4 linked regions of the Homo sapiens genome follow. The protein of the gene in region 1 purifies or fractionates together with the protein of each later gene. This does not show direct contact. Each region holds a gene or a part of one and is shown on either strand. Other genes may lie near its edges.

Region 1 (4,907 bases):
AAAATGTTTTTACATCCAGTAGAAAAATGTAGTCTGAAAATAGGATTTTTTTTTTTCTGATTTGAAAATTTAAGAAACTCTTACTTTTGTAAAATGTTACATAACTTGAGCCAAATTCTTTCGTGGCCCACTTTACTCTCTGTGACTGGGAAACAATGGAAAGTTGCATTTTCTGTTTTGATGTACAGTTTGTTCGTGATCAAAACAAATCCGTACTCTTAAGGAACACCATAGATTTGAGGGAGTTTAATTCTAGAACTAGCAAATTTTCATTTTATATAGTTGCTTAATGTCAACTGAGTCTTTTAAGGTTATATAGGCACCATATCAACAGTGGACAGCAAGAACAATAAGATGATCAAGACATTTAAAAAAGAATAAAGCACTACATATTTGATTGTATACTTTTACTGAAATGTTGTAAGTAATTGCTTCATATCTTTATTTAACTTTCCTTATGTGTATGCTCTTTAAATTTTTTTAAATGTTTAAAGTTATCCATGCAGGATGAACAGAGAAGCCTTCAAGTAGTAATGAGGACTTCTTAGATAAGCAAATAATTAAAATAGAATTTTCTGCATTTAGAACAGTTTTTGGTCTTAACATACTGAAATAATATAAAATTCACCTAATGAGCCAGGTGCGGTGGCTCACACCTGTAATCCCAGCACTTTGTGAGGCCGAGGTGGGCAGATCACCTGAGGTCAGGAGTTACAGACCAACCTGGCCAACATGGTGAAGCCCCGTCTCTACTAAAAGTACAAAAATTAGCCTGGCATGGGGGCGCATGCCTGTAATCCCAGCTACTTGGGAGGCAGAGGCAAGAGAATCACTTGAACCCAGGAGGCGGGGGTTGTAGTGAGCTGAGATCGTGCCACTGCATTCCAGCCTGGGTGACACAGTGAGACCCCATCTCAAAAAAAAAAAATACACACATATGTATATTTATATATAATATATATTTATATATAATATATATTATATATATTTATATATAATATATAAATTTATATATTATATATTATATATTTATATATAATTATATATAAATTATATATATTATATATAATATATATAAAAATACACATTAGATGAAATATATATATATATTTTGTCTAATCATGTTCTTATCCTAAATTGTGAGGCATTTTATTTTATTTATTTTTATTGTTGAGACAGAGTCTCAGGCCAGAGTGCAGTGGCGCGATCTCTGCTCACTGCAACCTCCACCCCCCCAGTATCAAGCAATTCTCCTGCCTCAGCCTCCTGAGTAGCTGGGACTACAGGCGTGCACCAGCACGCCTGGCAAATTTTTTGTATTTTTAGTAGAGACGGGGTTTCTCCATATTGGCCACGCTGGTCTCCAACTCCTGACCTCGTGATCCGCCTGCTTCGGCCTTCCAAAGTGTTGGGATTACAGGCGTGAGCCACCACGCCTGGCCTGCAAGGCATTTTATAACTATTTGAACCTGAATTTTAAAAAATATATTATTCACTTATTTATTCATTCATTTACTCAAAAAATATATTGAATGCTTTGTATGAGGCTCTGTTTAGGCTCTGAGTATGATAGTAAAAGCAAGTCTTTGCCCTTATGGAGCTTACAATAGTTGTCAGTTTGACAAAATAAGGAAGCAGGCTATGGCAGACAATTGTTAGACTGATAAAAGATTGACATGGTTTACTAAGCATTTCTAAATAAAGCTTGAAAGTAAATTTGGCTGTTCATATAATTAGCACACAGTCAACAAATGTTATTACTCATGAAGTATTAATCTCAATTCTATTATTGAAATCTCAACACCCCATTTACTCCAAAAGCAGGTGCAGTTAATAACCAAAGCAGGCCACAAAGCCACAGCAGTGGAGAATTTAGCCTGCTTCATGACCATGAGGCTTGGTCCAGCAGTGGTAGCAGTCCAATCCAGTACTTGAAAAGACAGACCAGATCAAGCCCAGTGCTCCAGCACAAAATATCTGAAACACTGGAGAGTCGACATCACAAGATCAAAACTGGTTCCCCTGGAAGTGAAGTTGTTACTCTACAACAGTTTTTGGAAGAAAGCAATAAGCTTACCTCAGTACAGGTTAGTTTTATCTATGATGACCTTAATTTAGATGAACACCACAAGTTAAATTTCTGTAATTGAACTTCAGAGCTTTTTTTTTTTGGTAAGTTAAGGAGTATTAAGAGGTACCACAATTTTATATTGCACAGTCTGCTAAATCAGGAAAGTAAAAACATGGCACTATATTCACTAATCTGCTTTGAATTTTTTTTTAAACAGATAAAGTCCTCAAGTCAAGAGAATCTTTTAGATGAAGTAATGAAAAGTTTGTCTGTCTCTTCTGACTTTTTGGGAAAAGACAAACCAGTTAGCTGTGGTCTGGCCAGGTCAGTAAGTGGAAAAACCCCAGGGGACTTCTATGATAGACGGACAACTAAGCCTGAGTTTTTGAGACCTGGTCCTCGAAAAACTGAAGATACCTACTTCATTAGTTCTGCGGGAAAACCTACACCAGGCACTCAAGGAAAAATAAAATTAGTAAAAGAATCTTCTCTGTCACGACAATCAAAAGATAGTAACCCTTATGCAACTTTACCTCGTGCAAGCAGCGTGATCTCAACTGCCGAAGGAACTACACGAAGGACAAGCATCCATGATTTTTTGACCAAGGACAGTAGACTGCCTATATCAGTTGATTCACCACCAGCTGCTGCTGACAGCAACACCACTGCAGCATCTAGTGAGTACCATTTACACCAGTGGTCCTCTCATATACTTGACATCCCAACACATACTATAGGTTCTTGTGCCCAAAATGATTTAGCTATAGACATGCCTGAGCCTCTATATGCCCAGGCTAGAAACTCAAGAACAGGAAGGTCACATTTTCTAAACCAAACTTTTGCCACTATTAGGATGCCTAGTGATGCATTCGGAATGTTGGCAAAAGATAGCATAGGACCATTTACTGTGGCCCATTCATCTCAGCCATTCTTATCCCTGAATACAGAATTAGTTAGTAACATAAGTGGGTTACCTCCTAGGCCAGTTATCAGAATAACTGACCAGGCTTCTGCCTCTTTGGATAAACCTGCACAGAAAGAAAATGAACAGTTTTCTGATCATCAGAACCCTAGTAACAGTAACCTACAGTTTTCTATAAATAGCAACAATCTTGTCACTTCTGCATGCCTCTATCCTGATGACACAGAAGCTGCATTGTTGGTTTCTGAGGATAATCAAACTGTTTGGTATGAATATGGTTGTATATGATCAAAACTGCACAATATAATATATTGATGTTATTTGATATACACTGCTTCTCTAATATGATTTGAAAAGTTGCTGTTAACAAAATATCATTTGGCTAGGTTTTTATTTTTTATTTAAAATTGTTGCACAGTGTTCAGCTGTACATGATGGCATGTATATTAATGTGAATGTGTAACCACACCAAAACCTGCATGAAATATTAATTACTTTGTCCATTTTCTGCATGCCTTTAAAAACCTTAACCATACATGCTCCTCCTTCACATTTTTTGTTGCCTGATAAGATTGTTACTTTGATATCCAGAAGCATGTTAAAACAGTTGCATGCTCTCTTACCAAGAAGACATTTCCAAGTCATATTTGCTTTGTTGCTTCTGGAAAAAAATGTTCATTTCCTCCCTCCCTTCCTCCTCTTCCCACCCCTCACTTGCTCTGACTGTCACTCCTTTTTTTCTTCCAGAATGTGTACTTTATATTACATATGTACAGTATCAGTAGGGAAAATGTAAAAAGATGTTGTTTTCTTTTGTCATTTAATTAGGCCATCTGTCCTGTTTTAAAGAAATAGTTAATAATTCAACACTTTATATAACAAATATTAACTAATACCCATATTTATAAAACATTTTTCAGATTTAAAAGATTGTTAATACTTATAAACTTAGTGTTATTCTTAGAAAACCCCATCAAATTTAAATGTGATTTACACAGTGACTAGGAACATTTGTATTTATTGTTTCTTCTCTGCACTTTTCATCATCTGATAAATACAAGAGCTCAAGTAACTGTCTTTTCTTCAAGATGGCTTCTATACTTGAAATCAGTTAATACAATAGTTTTTCCAGTTCTTTTTTTATAGAGAGTCAAAGAGAAATAAACCAAATTATATTCATTGTGTTGGAAATTTGTATTTTTACTTCTAATCAAAAAGGGTAGCAAGTTTACAAAGTGGTAAAAATTGTTACTTCTATAATTAATCTATTATTAAATTATACATGTATATCCTTAAAACAGAATTTTTTTTAAATGAATAATCACACTAAAATGTAAAATTAGAACTTGTAACCATTTAAACAAGTATGTTTCTAGTAGAACAAATTTTAGAACTAAGAATAAATACACTCTTTAGCTTAAAAAAAAAAAAAAAAGTAAGAAAATATTTGTTAACTTTGACTCCAGTGCAAAGAACTTTTATTTTTGTGTTCACAGCACTTTTAAAGCAAATTAGCTAAATTTGAATCTCTAACTCCCAGATTGCTAAAAACAAAAAAACCCATAACCCTGATCCATTTACTTCCAGAGAAATACACATTGGCATTCTCTCTGGAATGTTTTTTGCCATTTGGATTTAGCCTATAGCTGATAAGGACTCAGCCTGGCACCTGGAAGGAATGCCTTCAAATGTGACCATGTGGGGATGAAATTATGTTATACTTGTTGTTGTTGTTGTTGTATTAAGTGGTTATTAACTGGACCAAAGAAAAAATCTGTAGAGAATATTTCCTAATGAAATTTGTCTCCTTTGTAATCACACTTTTTTTCCGATAGCTATTACAAAAAAAAAAAAAAATGGTTCTGGTACAGGTAATCAAATGAACACAATCAGAGGATTGTCATATTTTAGTAC
Region 2 (4,907 bases), on another chromosome or scaffold:
CCGGAGTCAGAAAAAAAAAATCGTTACTTTAAGTGTTACTTCTCTAGCAATAAAAAAAAATTATACTTAGTGCATGCTTCATCATTTGTCAAAAAATGTTTCTGAAAATATGACTCAAGTTACCCAATGGTTTACAAAATAGAAAAATCATTCATTAGGGTAAAAATGTGGTGGGATTTAGGTCCATTTCCAGAGGACTAACTTCGTTCCTAAAGGCCGCACCACTGTCCTTCAGCAGAGGTGGTAATGACAGTTCCATGATGGAAGCGGCCGGCCTGCAGAAGGCCACTACTTGACATCTGATTATCTTTGACCACCCCATATCTGCCATTTCATTAGTGCTATAAAAAGATGGGATTTTTGTGGAAAAGTCAGGAACATTTCTGCTGTACATGATTTAGAAGTTCTCCAAATTTTTCAAAGAGGTCCTCCACCCATTTTACATTTTTCATACAAAGTTGAACAATTTCCTCCTGTCCTAAATCTTCATTTTTTTTCTGCACCGAAGAAATCTAAAAAAAGAAAATCGCCAAATTAGCTTATACTTATCACATCATATTTAAGTTCAACTACAAGTACTGGTATTTTATTTTTTTCTTAATCCTATCCATGGAGAATGATTATTTCAGCTAAATTTGGGTGAGATCTCATCCTCTCATCTTTGGCTCCAAGGTGGCAGAAAGGAAGGCTAGAAAAAGTACTTCAGACTTTCTCCATTTCTTCCAATTACGTTAAAAGTCAAATGACAAATTTTGGAGTCGATTCTGCATTTTAGAGCATTGTAAAAACAGTGAACCTATGTTGCATCACCATCTTTGCTTTCTCTTTTGCTATATAAAGGTTAGATTTATGAGCATCTTTCCATACCAGACTACTGTCAAACACATTAGATATAGCCTTGGACCCTTTATAATGAAAAGAAGTGATAGTGCTGGTCAAATAAGGTAGTATTGTCTACAACCATTTAGCATGGCTGTGGAAATTAATGCTTATATCCCATCCATGAGGTGATATTTTGTCATGTATAATCTCTGAACAACTTAAAAGCTACAATTAAATTTTAACTTTCAGTTTTTCATGCCAAGGCACAAAACCCCACTTCTCTGCAATTAAGTGGGATAAGGCCATTCTAAGTAATAAGTAAGGCAGTGAGATGTCAAAGCAGTGACTGAAGTGAATTAAAGCAAGATCATCATACACTGTGAGAGAACAAAATGCAATAAAACATCATTTATTATGGCGATGTAAAGCAAGCACCAACAGCTTCAAAACATTACCAATTATAGCTCCTACAAGAGGTGGTGAGGCTCGGGTAAATCTGAGCACAAAACATAGCAGAGAGACTCAGAACAATAAATCAAGTCATTATTTACAGAATACATAGACAAAATACATACACACATGTATTTCACAACTCTCTTTAAAACACTCCAAAATACTATGGCTAGAGTCTCCTTAACATTCTGAAAAACATTTTTTTTAAGTAAATGAGAAGAAATTACCTCATCCTTACATATCAGATAAACATGGTACTTATAATGATGGAGTGAATGATACAAAGAATACAACTGTATTTTCTCTGGATCGACAGCAAACTCCTATAAAAAGAAAAAAGTTTATAGATACATTTCATGGAGTATCTGAGCTAAGAACACTTTGAGGAAAATACTAGATCAAAAGTCTCAATGGCAATGTTGAAAATGACATATATGGGTAGGTATTCAGTTGGGTTAATATGGAGAGACTTATTCAAAATAAGAATTTAAATTATATTTTAAAATCTTATTCTTTATCCTGCATATAAATATGCATTATTGAAAAAACTTAAGCATTATAGGAAAATTTAAACAATAAACATATGAGATGATTTATAAAATAAAAGCTCCCTATAATCTCCTGCTTCAGAGCTAAACAAAGCTAATGGCATGTTATATATTTTTTAATGTTTTCCCCCAGGTATAACATGTATGTTAATAACACTAATTTTGTAATGAGAAGGGAATCACACTATACATATTGTCTAGCAACTTTTCTTCTTTCTTCCAACGTGTTTTTTGACCTAACTAATAATTGGCTATCTTTTCATTTAGTACATATAGCTGTCCCTCCCCATCCTCCCCAAATACAAACTATATGAGGGTAAGGACTTTTAACCAGTTTTCACTGTTGTATCTCTAGTACTTAGAACTGTACTTGGCATACTATAGGCACTCAAAAAAATTTTTCTGAAAGAATGAACAAATCTATCTCTTCTTTATAAAAAGCACGTAGTATGACATTACGTGGCTCTTCATTTATCTAACCTCACACTGGTGGTACATAATTGGATTGCTCTTACAAACAATTCCACAATGAGCAAAGGTATGTATTTTTATGCATTTCTGAATCTATTTCTACAGAATACTTTTTTTTTTTTTTTTGAGACAGTGTCTCATTCTGTCACCCAGGCTGGAGTGCAGGGGTGCAATCACAGCTCACTGCAGTCTCAATTCCCTGGACTCAAGCGATCCTCCCACTCAGCTTCTCAAGTAGCTAGGACTACAGGTGCATGGCACCATGCCTGGCTAATTTTTTTTTCTCCCCCCAGGGTAGACATGGGGCCTTGCTTTGTTGCCAAGACTGGTCTCGAACACCTGGACTCAAGTGATCCTCCTGCCTCAGCCTCCCAAAGTGCTGGGATTATAGGCTTGAGCCATTGTGCTTAGCCCTGAATACATTTTTGCTGTGAAGTTGATATGTTGCCAAACTGTTTTCTGAAAAGGTTATAACAATTTATACTATGTTTGAAGATGAACAAATTCCAATTTTAATGACTTTGCAGATATGAAATAAACATTTCATCTTTTTATGGAATGTGTTCTGCACACTTACTTATCTATGTGCATGCATATACAATTAAAAATATACCTATATTACAAGTAATGCATATGTTAATGAGTTTGAATTAGCCATTTCACAATGTACACACATTTCAAAACATTTTGTACATAATATATGCAATTTAAAAAATGAAAAACTACCTACAAATATATAAACATGAGCACGAGATGATTTCTTCCATATTAGTCAATTTAAGAAATTTGTGAGCACATATTATATGCCTGATACTGTGCTATAGAAAAACAATAAACCACCATGCGTCCCTGTTCCTCAGGCCAGTGACGCTTATTCCTACCTGAAAAACCTTCACACTTAATGACAACATAGTAAAATATTTGCTTGTTTCAATGTTTTAAGTAGGAATTGTATTAACAATTGGAAAAGGTATAGTTACATTAATAATCAATTACACTTACTTGTGCAGATTTGGTGGTTGTTTTAGAAGTCCTTAGAGTTTTCTTATTATAGGCTTTGCCATTCATTTTGATTTTAGAAATAGCAGTTCCTCCACTCTTTGCTTTAGAATCTCGAGTAATTATTGTTAGTTCAGGAAAACTTTCCAAAGCATTCTGGAAAACAATGAAGCAAAATAACTGACACCAGAAGAAAACTAACCTAAACTACTTCTAGCTATCTAAAATTTAGAAGTGTGTGTGCACACAAACACCTATTTGCAGAGAGGTGTGTGTGCACACAAACACCTATTTGCAGAGAGGTGTGTGTGTACTGATGGGATATGCATACATATACATACACAGGTTGGGGTTTAAACATGGTCATAAGCTCTTTGCAGCCCTTCCTATTGGATATGTAATCTATTTCCCTTAAATCCCTTAAATCTGAGCCAACTCTATGACCTGCTTATTTAAGCAACAGCACACCACACTGGGAACCCTTAACAGGGCCAAGAGTTCTTTCTAGTAATGTCTCTGGCTTCAAGGCAGGAGAAAGGAAGACATACATGTTTCACTAAAGCCCTACCACTTAAACCACTGCTTGCCCCGTGAAATGTGGCTGGGCCTTGCTATAAAGAAGTCATCTGCCTCTGGTGAAGATGACGACAGAGGAGAAGCGGCACTGTAGTGCTTCTCTGGCTTCACTCTTCTCTTGCTTATTTTGACTGCAAGACAAGTACTTGTAAGATAAGATCCTAAAACAGAGCATGATGGGTTTTTTGACAGTGGTTATGTGGCAAAACCAATTCCACTCCATCCTTTAAAAGCCACTGGTGGCCAGGAATGGTGGCTCATGCCTGTAATCCCAGCACTTTGGGAGGCCAAGGTGGGCAAATTACTTGAGGCCAGGAGTTCGAGACCAGCCTGACCAACATGGCAAAACCTTGTCTCTACTAAAAATACAAAAATTAGCTGGGTGAGGTGGTGCACACCTGTAATCCCAACTACTCAGGAGGCTGAGGTAAGAGAATCGCTTGAACTCGGGAGGCAGAGGTTGTACTGAGCTAATATCATGCCACTGCACTCCAGTCTGGGTGACAGAGAGAGACTCTATCTCTAAATAAATAAATAAATAAATAAATAAATAAATAAATAAATAAATAAGCCACTGGCCTATTTATGCCCTTACCTACTTGGCAAATCATTCTGCCTGACTGAAAAGCTACAAACAATAACTGAATGATACTTGTGGCAACATTTAACTAGTTTGATTATGACTTTATAAAAATTAAATCGAGCTCCTACCATCATTTATTATTTTGACACTAAAAATGTTGAAGTCCTCCTATTATATTTATGATTCAGAATGCAGTCCAAATTCGATAAGCGCAAGTGTTTTATAAACAGTTACAACCTTTAAAGCCACTCTTCTCCAAACTCATCTATTGTTTCCAAGCACCTGGTATTGGGGCCCTGAAAACAGTACTGTTTTGTTTTTTTTTTTTTTTGAGATGGAGTCTTGCTCTGTCATCCAGGCTAGAGTGCAGTGGCGTGATCTCGGCTCACTGCAAGCTCTGCCTCCTGGGTTCACGCCATTCTCCTGCCTCAGCCTCCCGAGTAGCTGGGACTACA
Region 3 (4,907 bases), on another chromosome or scaffold:
AGTTGGAACCTTTCTAGGCTGTACTGACTCCATTGGTGTGAATGATGAAATAAGCATTTAATAAGCTTTGCTTATACCCCTAATATCCACATTTTAATTTTATGCCAGACTCTTTTGAAAAGAGAAATATTTTGCATAAAACCTTGTGTGTGTGTGTGTGTGTGTGTTGTGTATGTGTGTGTATATCTGTATGTTTTCAAAGGCCTTAACCATTATAAGAAATTACAGGCTGGGCGCGGTGGCTCACACCTGTAATCCCAGCACTTTGGGAGGCTGAGGCAGGTGGATCACCAGGTTAAGAGATTGAGACAATCCTGGCCAACATGGTGAAACTCCATCTCTACAAAAAATATAAAAATTAGCTGGGCATGGTGGCGTGCACCTGTAGTCCCAGCTACTTGGGAGGCTGAGGCAGGAGAATCGCTTGAACCCGGAGGCAGAGGTTGCAGTGAGCCAAAATCACGCCACTGCACTCCAACCTGGTGACAGAGTGAGACTCCGTCTCAAAAAACAAAACAAAACAAAACAAAACAACAAAAAACTTACAGAGGACATTTTTTATTGTTGTTACAGAATGTCATACCCAGGCTATCCCCCAACAGGCTACCCACCTTTCCCTGGATATCCTGTAAGTATTGCCACTTAATACCTCACATCCTTAAAACAGGTGTTGTTTGGGACTGGCCCATGTCAGATCTTACAGATATGCTTGAGCAGGGGTCATAAATTCAGATGCTCAGAGGTACTACGTAGAAGTGAGGAAAGGCAATTGTGTGGGGGACTAGAGAGGTCTTGCTTTGTCTATTGAAAGCTGGCAGGTGCTTAGCACCAGCCCTGTGTAGCCATGGAGGGAGGCACACTCAGCGTTGCTAGATACTCCAGCCCTTCAAGTAAAGCCAGAAACTTGGGTTCTATGTGAAATTGCCCAAAGGTTCAAAATTTAGGAGTTAGTTTTAAAAAATGTTAACTGCTGTATGAGCCAGTAAAACATGGATGTAAGCAAAATCCATCCCATGAATCACTGGTTCTTTTTCTTTTTTTTAATGCCCTTGAGTCATAATATCACTGCATCTTAACCTTTGTGTTAGAATGTTTAAAATAATTAACGGCTTGGCTAGACCCAGAGATAAATTGCAGTGGATTTGTAGTTCTTAGACTTGGAGTACGTTTTATAAATGTGCTACTAAGTTCCACCTTGTTGATAGCTATACTACTCTGAGGACTAAGAGCTGAGCCATAAGTAAGAATTGTGCGTTTCAGTTTTTGTTTGTTTGTTTGTTTGTGTTTTTGAGATGGAGTCTCGCTGTGCGCCCAGGCTGGAGTGCAGTGGTGTGATCTCAGCTCACTGCAACTTATGCCTCCTGGGTTCAAGTGATTCTCCTGCCTCAGCCTCCCGAGTAGCTAGGATTTCAGGTGCCCGCCACTGTGCCTGGCTGATTTTTTGTATTTTTAGTAGAGACGGAATTTCACCATGTTGGCCAGGCTTGTCTCAAACTCCTGACCTCAAATGATCTGCCCTCCTTGGCCTCCCAAAGTGCTGGGATTATAGGCATGAGCCATTGCGCCTGGCCACATTTCAGTTTTTTGTTTTTGTTTTTGTTTTTGTTTTTGAGATGGAGTCTCGCTCTGTCACCAGGCTAGAGTGCAGTGGTGTGATCTCGACTCACTGCAACCTCCGTCTCCTGGGGTTCAAGCGATTCTCCTGCCTCAGCCTCCTGAGTAGCTGGGATTACAGGTACGTGCCACCACGCCCAGCTAGGTTTTGTATTTTTAGTAGAGATGGGGTTTCACAATGTTGGCCAGGATGGCCTCAATCTCCTGACCTCGTGATCCGCCCACCTCGGCCTCCCAAAGCGCTGGGATTACAGGCATGAGCCACTTAGCCCAGCCCACATTTTGGTTTTATACTCATAACTGTGGGGCTGCTATCTAACCCTGGGAGAATAGGAAGAGGGGTCTATACAAGTTTATGATAATATGTATCCTTATGCAAAGTGATTATATAGCTCTCGTGAATTTATCATAGGAGAGATGAGAATTATGGATATGTTCCCAAGTCCCTATGTATTAAACAGGACTGTAGTAACTATTTCAGTCAGTGTAGGCTAATTGCTAAAACAGACAACTCCCAAATCTCAGTGACTTAACACGATGAAAAAACAAATGTATTTCTTTCTTCAGTTTCCTGGACGTCAGTGGAGGATAGGGGGTGGGTGGGACGAGGCTTTGTTTCATGCAGTGTTTTGGGTTTCCAGGCTCCTTCCTTATTCTGATCCTACCATCCTTTAGCACTTTGGAGTCCTCCACTGGATCCTCTGCTTATGGGTGGCAGATGAAGGAAGAGAGAGAGCATGGAGGATTTGCCAGAGGTTTTTAGGGGACAGGTTTAGAAAGTGGTGTATCTCACTTTTGTCTATGTTCATTTACTGATATTCATTCATGTGGTTCGACCTAACTGCAAGGGGGTCTGGGAAGTGTAGTCTGTATAGCTTTGTGGCCTGGGGAGAAAGAGTTCAGTGAACATGCAACAATCTCTGCCACTCTGCATATTGCTGCTCTGAACCATGAAGTCCAAAATGTCACATCCGGTGTGTGATGTGATATACAGGTTACCTTTTTTATTTTTAAATATTATGTAACAGATCCAGATGTGTTGCAAGAAAGCCTCAAATTCCTCTGTTTAGGATATAGAGGAGGATCTTTCTCATATTTGTAGATGCTGGGAAAATGAAGGAACTGATGAGTTTTTTTTTTTTCTTAAAACCTTGAGGTTTGTAAAGAATCCTGTTCTGACTCCCAAATAGAGAAGCAGACCCCTCTTGCCTGACTCAAGTAGAATTAAATTTAACTGAATTCTGACAAACAAGTGTCCTTACAAACTGGTATACTGATAAACTAGTATAAGATACCAGGATTTCTAATGGGACTTTTAAAAAGTAAAAGAATGAGGTAGACCTTAATAATAACCTCTGTTTGTTCCTTATTTTTAGATGGGTCATATTTCTCTATGATCGTATTTGTTTAAAAATTATTCTGATTTTTCAGCCTGCAGGTCAGGAGTCATCTTTTCCCCCTTCTGGTCAGTATCCTTATCCTAGTGGCTTTCCTCCAATGGGAGGAGGTGCCTACCCACAAGTGCCAAGTAGTGGCTACCCAGGAGCTGGAGGCTACCCTGCGCCTGGAGGTTATCCAGCCCCTGGAGGCTATCCTGGTGCCCCACAGCCAGGGGGAGCTCCATCCTATCCCGGAGGTGAGTTACGGGTTGCGGAATTAGTAATGATTGGGATTGCTGTAGCACTTTTTCCTTCTCCCTTTATCCTCTTCATTCCTGCTTGTTTTGTATAAGGTCAAGTCGCTCTTAGGTAACCTTAGGTAGTAAGGACCTAGCTGGCAAGATGGAGGGATGAAGATTCTCTGGGGACATGAAAGCTGGGAGCAGTTTCAAAAATTCCACTGTGAAGGGACTTGGAATAAATTTCATGGCAATAAAGGACCAATATGTAACACTTTGCTTGTTTGTAGTCTTAAGACCTGATTAAGACATTTCAATTAGCAAGACTGTGACCTTTAGGTCAGCTTTATTCAAAGGTAAAAAAGACCCCAAAAAACAACAAAAAAACCTTAGCCCTTTTGTATTTTAAGTTAGTAGGGAAGAGTAATAAAGTAATATTTTGGCTGGGTGTGGTGTCTCACACCTGTAATCCCGACACTTTGGGAGGTTGAGGTGGGTGGATCACTTGAAGCAAGGAGTTCGAGACCAGCTTGGCCAACATGGTGAAACCCTGTCTCTACTAAAAATATGAAAATTAGCTGGGTGTGGTGGTGCATGCCTGTAATCCCACCTACCTGGGAGGCTGAGGCAGGAAAATCACTTGAACGTGGTAGGTAGAGTTTGCAGTGAGCCAAGATTGTGCCACTAAACTCCAGCCTAGGCAACAGAGTGAGACTGTCTCAAAAAATAAATAAATATATAAGGTAAAAATTTAAAAACTTATTTTTTACTGGAGAATTTGAAGTTTTGAATCTAGATAAACAGGGACTGCTATTATAGCATTAATAGCATATTTTTCCACTGTTAACAATAGATATTTTTCTAAAGTTTTTTCTGCAATCATGAGAACTGTACTATAGTTTATTGACATGTTCTTTTCTCTAGTTCCTCCAGGCCAAGGATTTGGAGTCCCACCAGGTGGAGCAGGCTTTTCTGGGTATCCACAGCCACCTTCACAGTCTTATGGAGGTGGTCCAGCACAGGTTCCACTACCTGGTAGGTACCAGCTGTCCAGAAAAAAACAGTATCATGATATTTTGAGTTTTTAAATCACCATTGAGGGAACTTAGTTTATATTTGAGATAATCTGCAATAAATGTTTATATTTCCATAAATAATTTTAAACATAATGGTTTTATGAAATATATTAAATTGATGGAAAAGTTTAATCAGTAAAATAGAGATAAAGTCACACTTTTTCTATTAAAAAAATCTGTCCCAAAGCCAAAAGGAAGCCTTCAGGAACTTCTCTGCCCACTCCTGTACCAATAGTAAAACCACCCCCAGAACTGTATTCTGACAACCATTCCAGGTGGACTCAGAATTTAATCTGATTCAAGTGTGAAAAAAGTATTATTTATGAGGATCTTATGTAGAACATGGAATATTAAAAAGGTTCTTATGACCAAAGTTGGTTTTAGATTCAGTAAATTATATTTTTAAAAACTATCCTCATAAGTATCATAGTGTGAATGTTCTTGTATGTTTCCATATTCATAGTCATCAATGCTGTTTTGAAAAATTAAAACATGTAAGACCTGTTGCCGTATTATTATTATTTTTTTTAACATTATAGGTGGCTTTCCTGGAGGACAGATGCCTTCTCAGTATCCTGGAGGACAACCTACTTACCCTA
Region 4 (4,907 bases), on another chromosome or scaffold:
CCTGACCTCAAGTGATCCCTCCGCCTTGGCCTCCCAAAGTGCTGGGATTGCAGGTGTGAGCCACCGCACGCCCAGCCCACTTTTTCAACTTCTTATGGCCACTGGTCTATTCATATTTTCTATCTTTTGGATATTTATCTTTTCTTTGAAAATAGCCAGAGTCATCTCTCTATATAGGAATTAAGTTATAAGTCTTTCTTGACTTTTAAAATCTCCAATGTGTAGGAAATATTCTCTTTTCTATTCATACTCTTATTTGCACATCCTCGCATTCTTCACCTGGCTTCTCAGAACTTTCTATTTTACTATTTTTTCCCCACAAAGAATCAGCTCTTAGCTTAATCTGTCAAATTTATTTTCATTTCATTGAGCTATAATCTTACAAAATTATTTTCTTCACCCTTTTTAGGGTTTTCCTCCCCTAGTGTTCTGAGTTAAATATTTATTTCATCTACCTTGAGATCTTTGCTTTCTAAAGTAAGCACACTTCAGTTTTCTTGACTTTGTTCTTAATTTCCACTAAAAAATTTTATCAGAGAATGTGTCTGTATAATTTCTACTTTATGAAACGTGGGGGTTTTTTTGGTGGCCTAATATATTTTTGTAACCATGAGTGTTTCATGCAAACATGCATTTTTGGTCTTGGGGATGTAAAACCATATATTATAAACATACCAATTATTAGGTATATTATTCAAATCTATGTCATATATCATAATCTCTTAGAGCATCTCTGGGAGGTGTACTGAGTCTTCCACTTCAGCTGTGGCTTTATTGGGATGTTATGTGGTAAAGCATCCATCAATGCTGTCCTGTGGAAGGCTCTACATTTAGGTTGTTTAAAAGTCATTATTTCTAGGCCAGGTGTGGTGGCTCACGCCTGTAATCCCAGCAATTTGGGAGGCCAAGGCGGATGGATCACTTGAGGTCAGGAATTCGAGATCAGCCTGGCCAACAAGGTGAAACCAAGTCTCTACTAAAATACAAAAATTAGTCGGGTGTGGTGGCAGGTGCCTGTAATCTCAGATACTTAGGAGGCTGAGGCAGAAGAATCTCTTGAACCCAGGAGGCAGAGGTTGCAGTGAGCCAAGATCGTGCCACTGCACTCCAGCCTGGATGACAGAGCGAGACTCCCTCTCTAAATAAATAAATAAATAAATAAATAAATCTGGAAAACATGGCATATGGAACCACATGTTCAGCAAGAATGCATCTTGCCCATGTGAACTGCCAAAAGTGAGGGCTGAAGACTAGTTGCCAAAGCTGTTAAAAGAGGGCTGGGCGTGGTGGCTCACGCCTTTAGGAGGCCGAGGCAGTCGGATCACCTGAGGTCACAAGTTCAAGACCAGCCTGGCCAACATGGCGAAACCCCGTCTCTACTAAAAATATAAAAAAATTAGCTGGGCGTGGTGGCACAGGTCTGTAATCCCAGCTACTCAGGAGGCTGAGGTATGAGAATTGCTTGAACCTGGGAGGCAGAGGTTGTGGTGAGCAGAGATTGTGCCAGTGCACTCCAGCCTGGGCAACAGAGCAAGATTCTGTCTCAAAAAAAAAAAGCTGTTAAAAGATCAGATGCAGACATTTGATGTCCCTCTGTCAGAGTGAGAGGGAAGACAGTAATCTCAACGTTCTGCTCAGAAGAGCATTTAAAATAGTCAGAAACTGGAAAAGTACGCCCCAGCCCCTAGTCAAAGGTGCACATGAAACGATAGCCCTGACGTATGGTAAGGCTGAAACTGTTTACATTACATTATATAAATTAGAATAATTTCAGATCAGTTTCCAAGCTGAGCCCACACACAACCTCATCTTGGTCTAAAACTTCAAAATGAACACACAAGAGGGACATCTTTAAAAAATAAATAGATAAAAAATAAAAAATAAATCTTAATTATAATCTGGGAATAGGAGTGAAAGTAGAGATAATCTCCAAAAGCCTCTTAAAGTTTAAAATACCAAAATCGGAGCCAGCTCTCATCCAGCAGGTGTGGCAGGTATCACTCGCCCTTGCCATGTTAGAGCTATGTGGTGTTATTTTACTGGATGAAGGAACCATAAAGCCTACTTAAAGGTCAACTTCTTAAAAATCTATTTCTGCTCCTTCCCCTGAATGCAGGAGCCCATGGCAGACTACAGCAGCAGGGATCAACAGCGAACAGACCTCCAGCATTGTCTTCAGCTCTCTCTAAGCTAAGCTAACACTTAATTCTCTAACAAGTAATTCTCGGTGACTCCTGCTAAGGACCCCTTGCTTTTGGAAAACTACAGAATTTTCCAAAAGGTACAGGGACATGTCTTAACCTACATGGTATGTCTGCTGGACTTGGTCAGGTCCCCATGACATTTAAGGGCCAGCCACTAGCCAGGCCATAGGCTGTTTATGAACACAGGTTAGGGAATCTATGATGAAGAGTCTTGTGTTTCCCAAAAGGAGGAATTCACTCTTGGATTGCATTTCCTGAGGCTTTATTTTTAGTCCAAACTTAATACCAACTTCCAAATGCCAGAGGGCAACCTCTGTAAGGCAATTGGCCTTACAGGATAGCATTTTCTTTACTCTCAACAGGAAATACAGAAGCCAAGACAGGTGCAAAGTTTGCCTCTTCTGTAATTCCTCTTATCAATGCCATTACGAAATCCCATGATCTATGGGAAACCTATGGTTAAGTCTGAAGGTTTTAAAAAGGCACAATCCCAGGCTGAGCATGGTAGCTCATTCCTGTAATCCCAACATTTGAGAGAATCACTTGAGCCCAGGAGTTTGAGACCAGCCAAGGCAATATAGTGAGACCTCATTTCCCCCAAAAAAATTTTTAAATTAGCCAGGTGTGGTGGTGCATGCCTGTATTCCCAGCTACTCGGGAGGCTGAGGCAAGAGGATCACTTGAACCTGGGAGGTCAAGGATCCAGTTAGCCATAATCATACCACTGCAGTCCAGCCTGGATGACAGAGCAAAATTTTGTTTTATAAAATAAAAAAATAAATAAGTCATGGTACCTCAGGGAACCCCAAGCTCCTCAGAATGGGTTAATTCTAAATCTGGCAATGGAGGCAGGAATGGAGCCATCCCAACAGCTGCTACCTGGCTCCTGGGCAAGGCCTCTGTCCATAGGTAAAGCCAGCTAATAAAGAGCCCAGCACAAATACAGTCCTACTAGGCTCCTGGGGAAGAGTGCTAACTGGTGTTATTTTAATGTACCAGAACCCCTGGGAAGGCACAGGCTGAGAATACAGTGCTGAGGAAGTGGGGTATTACACCCCAGATAGTGCTTATGCATTAGGCTCAGTCCCTCAAAACTTAGAATAGTGGAAACCGTTCTCATGGACCTGCCCAGTTATTTTGGTTCTAAGCTAGAATCAATCTGCTAGATGGTTTACCATGGCAACACAAGGTGAAGCAGAAACCCTGGGACAGGAGAGTCAAGCGCTGTGGCCAGGACACCTAAGGCTTAGAGGGTTTTCCAGTAGAACCTTTCCATATCTTCCTTTGTAAAAGCTAAGGGTAGGAGAGGTGTGTGGGAGAACCACAGCCAGCAACAAAGGGGGTCCTTTTTGCTAAAAGAGACTCAGCCAGTTGCTTTGTCAGGACAAGAGGGAAGGAGAGTAGGGATGGGCTAGTAAAGACAAACTTCACACTGACTGTGAAACTCAGACTCATCCTTGTCTAGTCCACTGTGGCTAAACGAACACTGCACCCCCTCCCTGTTTCCTACAGGCCATCACAATGGCCATAGGGTCCAGCCACAGCTCACCTCATGAGTTCCATGAGAGAAGTTCAGACGAGCCACATTCATTCCAGACTTAATCATCTCCTTCAACGTCTCCACTGATCGGGAAGCTGGGCCTATTAGGAAAAGTTTTAAAGCCACAAGTATTAATTATTCAAAGAAGGAAAAACATTTAAGTTTGCTTAAGTTTAAAGAATTTTTTTCCCTGAAAACTTTTCCTCTCCCAAATAGCTCAAAAGTCTTTAAAAAGTGCATGGAAGGCTACTACCGTGCCAGCTTACTTTCTTGATCTACTGGGACACTTCGACCATTTCCTTCAAGTTCTGCAGGCTCCCACTGTATCAGAAAAGCCTAGGTTAAGACTTGGCCAGCCTTCTCCACCCTCACTGAAACCCAGCCAGATGTCCAACCACAGAATCTTGGTAGCACAGAACATGTTAGAAAGATCTTTCCTAGGTCTTTAAGTTGCTCCTACAAAGACCTGCTAAGGAAAACATCTTCTAAATTTTGCCTATAGCATAAAACCTAAACCATATGGATTCTTTTTGCAACAAATTATTTTTTATTATAAACTGGTAATTTATAATTTGGGTTACAAAGTTATGTAATCCAATACATACAGTTTGGATACAATGTGGAATAATTAAATCAGGTTAGTTAACATATCCATGACTTCAAATACTTAACATTTTTGTGGTGAGAACATTTGAAATTTACTCTTAGCGATGTTTTTTTCTTTTTTCTTCCTTTTTTTTTTGAGGCAGAGTTTCGTTCTTGTTGCCAAGGCTGGAGTGCAATGGTCAGATCTCAGCTCACTGCAACCTCCGCCTCCCAGGTTCAAGCAATTCTCCTGCCTCAGCCTCCCAAGTAGCTGGGATTATAGGTACCCGCCACCACCCCCGGCTAATTTTTTTGTATTTTTAGTAGAGATGGGATTTCACCATGTTGGCCAGGCTGGTCTCGAACTCCTGACCTCAGGTGATCCACCTGCCTCAGCCTCCCGAAGTGCTGGATTACAGGCATGTGCCACTGCGCCCGGACAATTTTTTTTTCTTAAGACAGGATCTCGCTCTGTTGCCTAGACTGGAGTGCAGTGGTGTGATCATGGCTCACTGCAACTTCAATCTCCTGGACTCAAGTGATCTTTGTCTCAGCCTCCCATGTAGCCAGAACTACAG

Evidence for each region. The genes of interacting proteins can lie anywhere in the genome.
Region 2: the proteins of CCDC88A (region 1) and QSER1 purify together in Homo sapiens (affinity purification with mass spectrometry, with the first as the bait; one large-scale study listed by BioGRID). This does not show direct contact.
Region 3: the proteins of CCDC88A (region 1) and ANXA7 purify together in Homo sapiens (affinity purification with mass spectrometry, with the first as the bait; one large-scale study listed by BioGRID). This does not show direct contact.
Region 4: the proteins of CCDC88A (region 1) and PKM purify together in Homo sapiens (affinity purification with mass spectrometry; one large-scale study listed by BioGRID and IntAct). This does not show direct contact.

Annotation. Positions count from the first base shown.
Region 1 is NC_000002.12:55,293,438-55,298,344, reverse strand, and holds part of CCDC88A (girdin), read left to right. Parts: intron 1-1,821; coding exon 1,822-2,087; intron 2,088-2,288; coding exon 2,289-2,748; intron 2,749-4,907. UniProt on the Homo sapiens protein: Bifunctional modulator of guanine nucleotide-binding proteins (G proteins). Acts as a non-receptor guanine nucleotide exchange factor which binds to and activates guanine nucleotide-binding protein G(i) alpha subunits.
Region 2 is NC_000011.10:32,971,939-32,976,845, reverse strand, and holds part of QSER1 (glutamine and serine-rich protein 1), read right to left. Parts: intron 3,450-4,907; coding exon 3,297-3,449; intron 1,599-3,296; coding exon 1,503-1,598; coding exon of another isoform or gene 1,290-1,502; exon of another isoform or gene 1,216-1,289; intron 513-1,215; coding exon 372-512; 3' UTR 1-371. UniProt on the Homo sapiens protein: Plays an essential role in the protection and maintenance of transcriptional and developmental programs.
Region 3 is NC_000010.11:73,396,524-73,401,430, reverse strand, and holds part of ANXA7 (annexin A7), read left to right. Parts: intron 1-573; 5' UTR 574-574; coding exon 575-628; intron 629-3,045; coding exon 3,046-3,250; intron 3,251-4,156; coding exon 4,157-4,267; intron 4,268-4,847; coding exon 4,848-4,907. UniProt on the Homo sapiens protein: Calcium/phospholipid-binding protein which promotes membrane fusion and is involved in exocytosis.
Region 4 is NC_000015.10:72,213,656-72,218,562, forward strand, and holds part of PKM (pyruvate kinase PKM), read right to left. Parts: intron 3,846-4,907; coding exon 3,754-3,845; intron 1-3,753. UniProt on the Homo sapiens protein: Catalyzes the final rate-limiting step of glycolysis by mediating the transfer of a phosphoryl group from phosphoenolpyruvate (PEP) to ADP, generating ATP.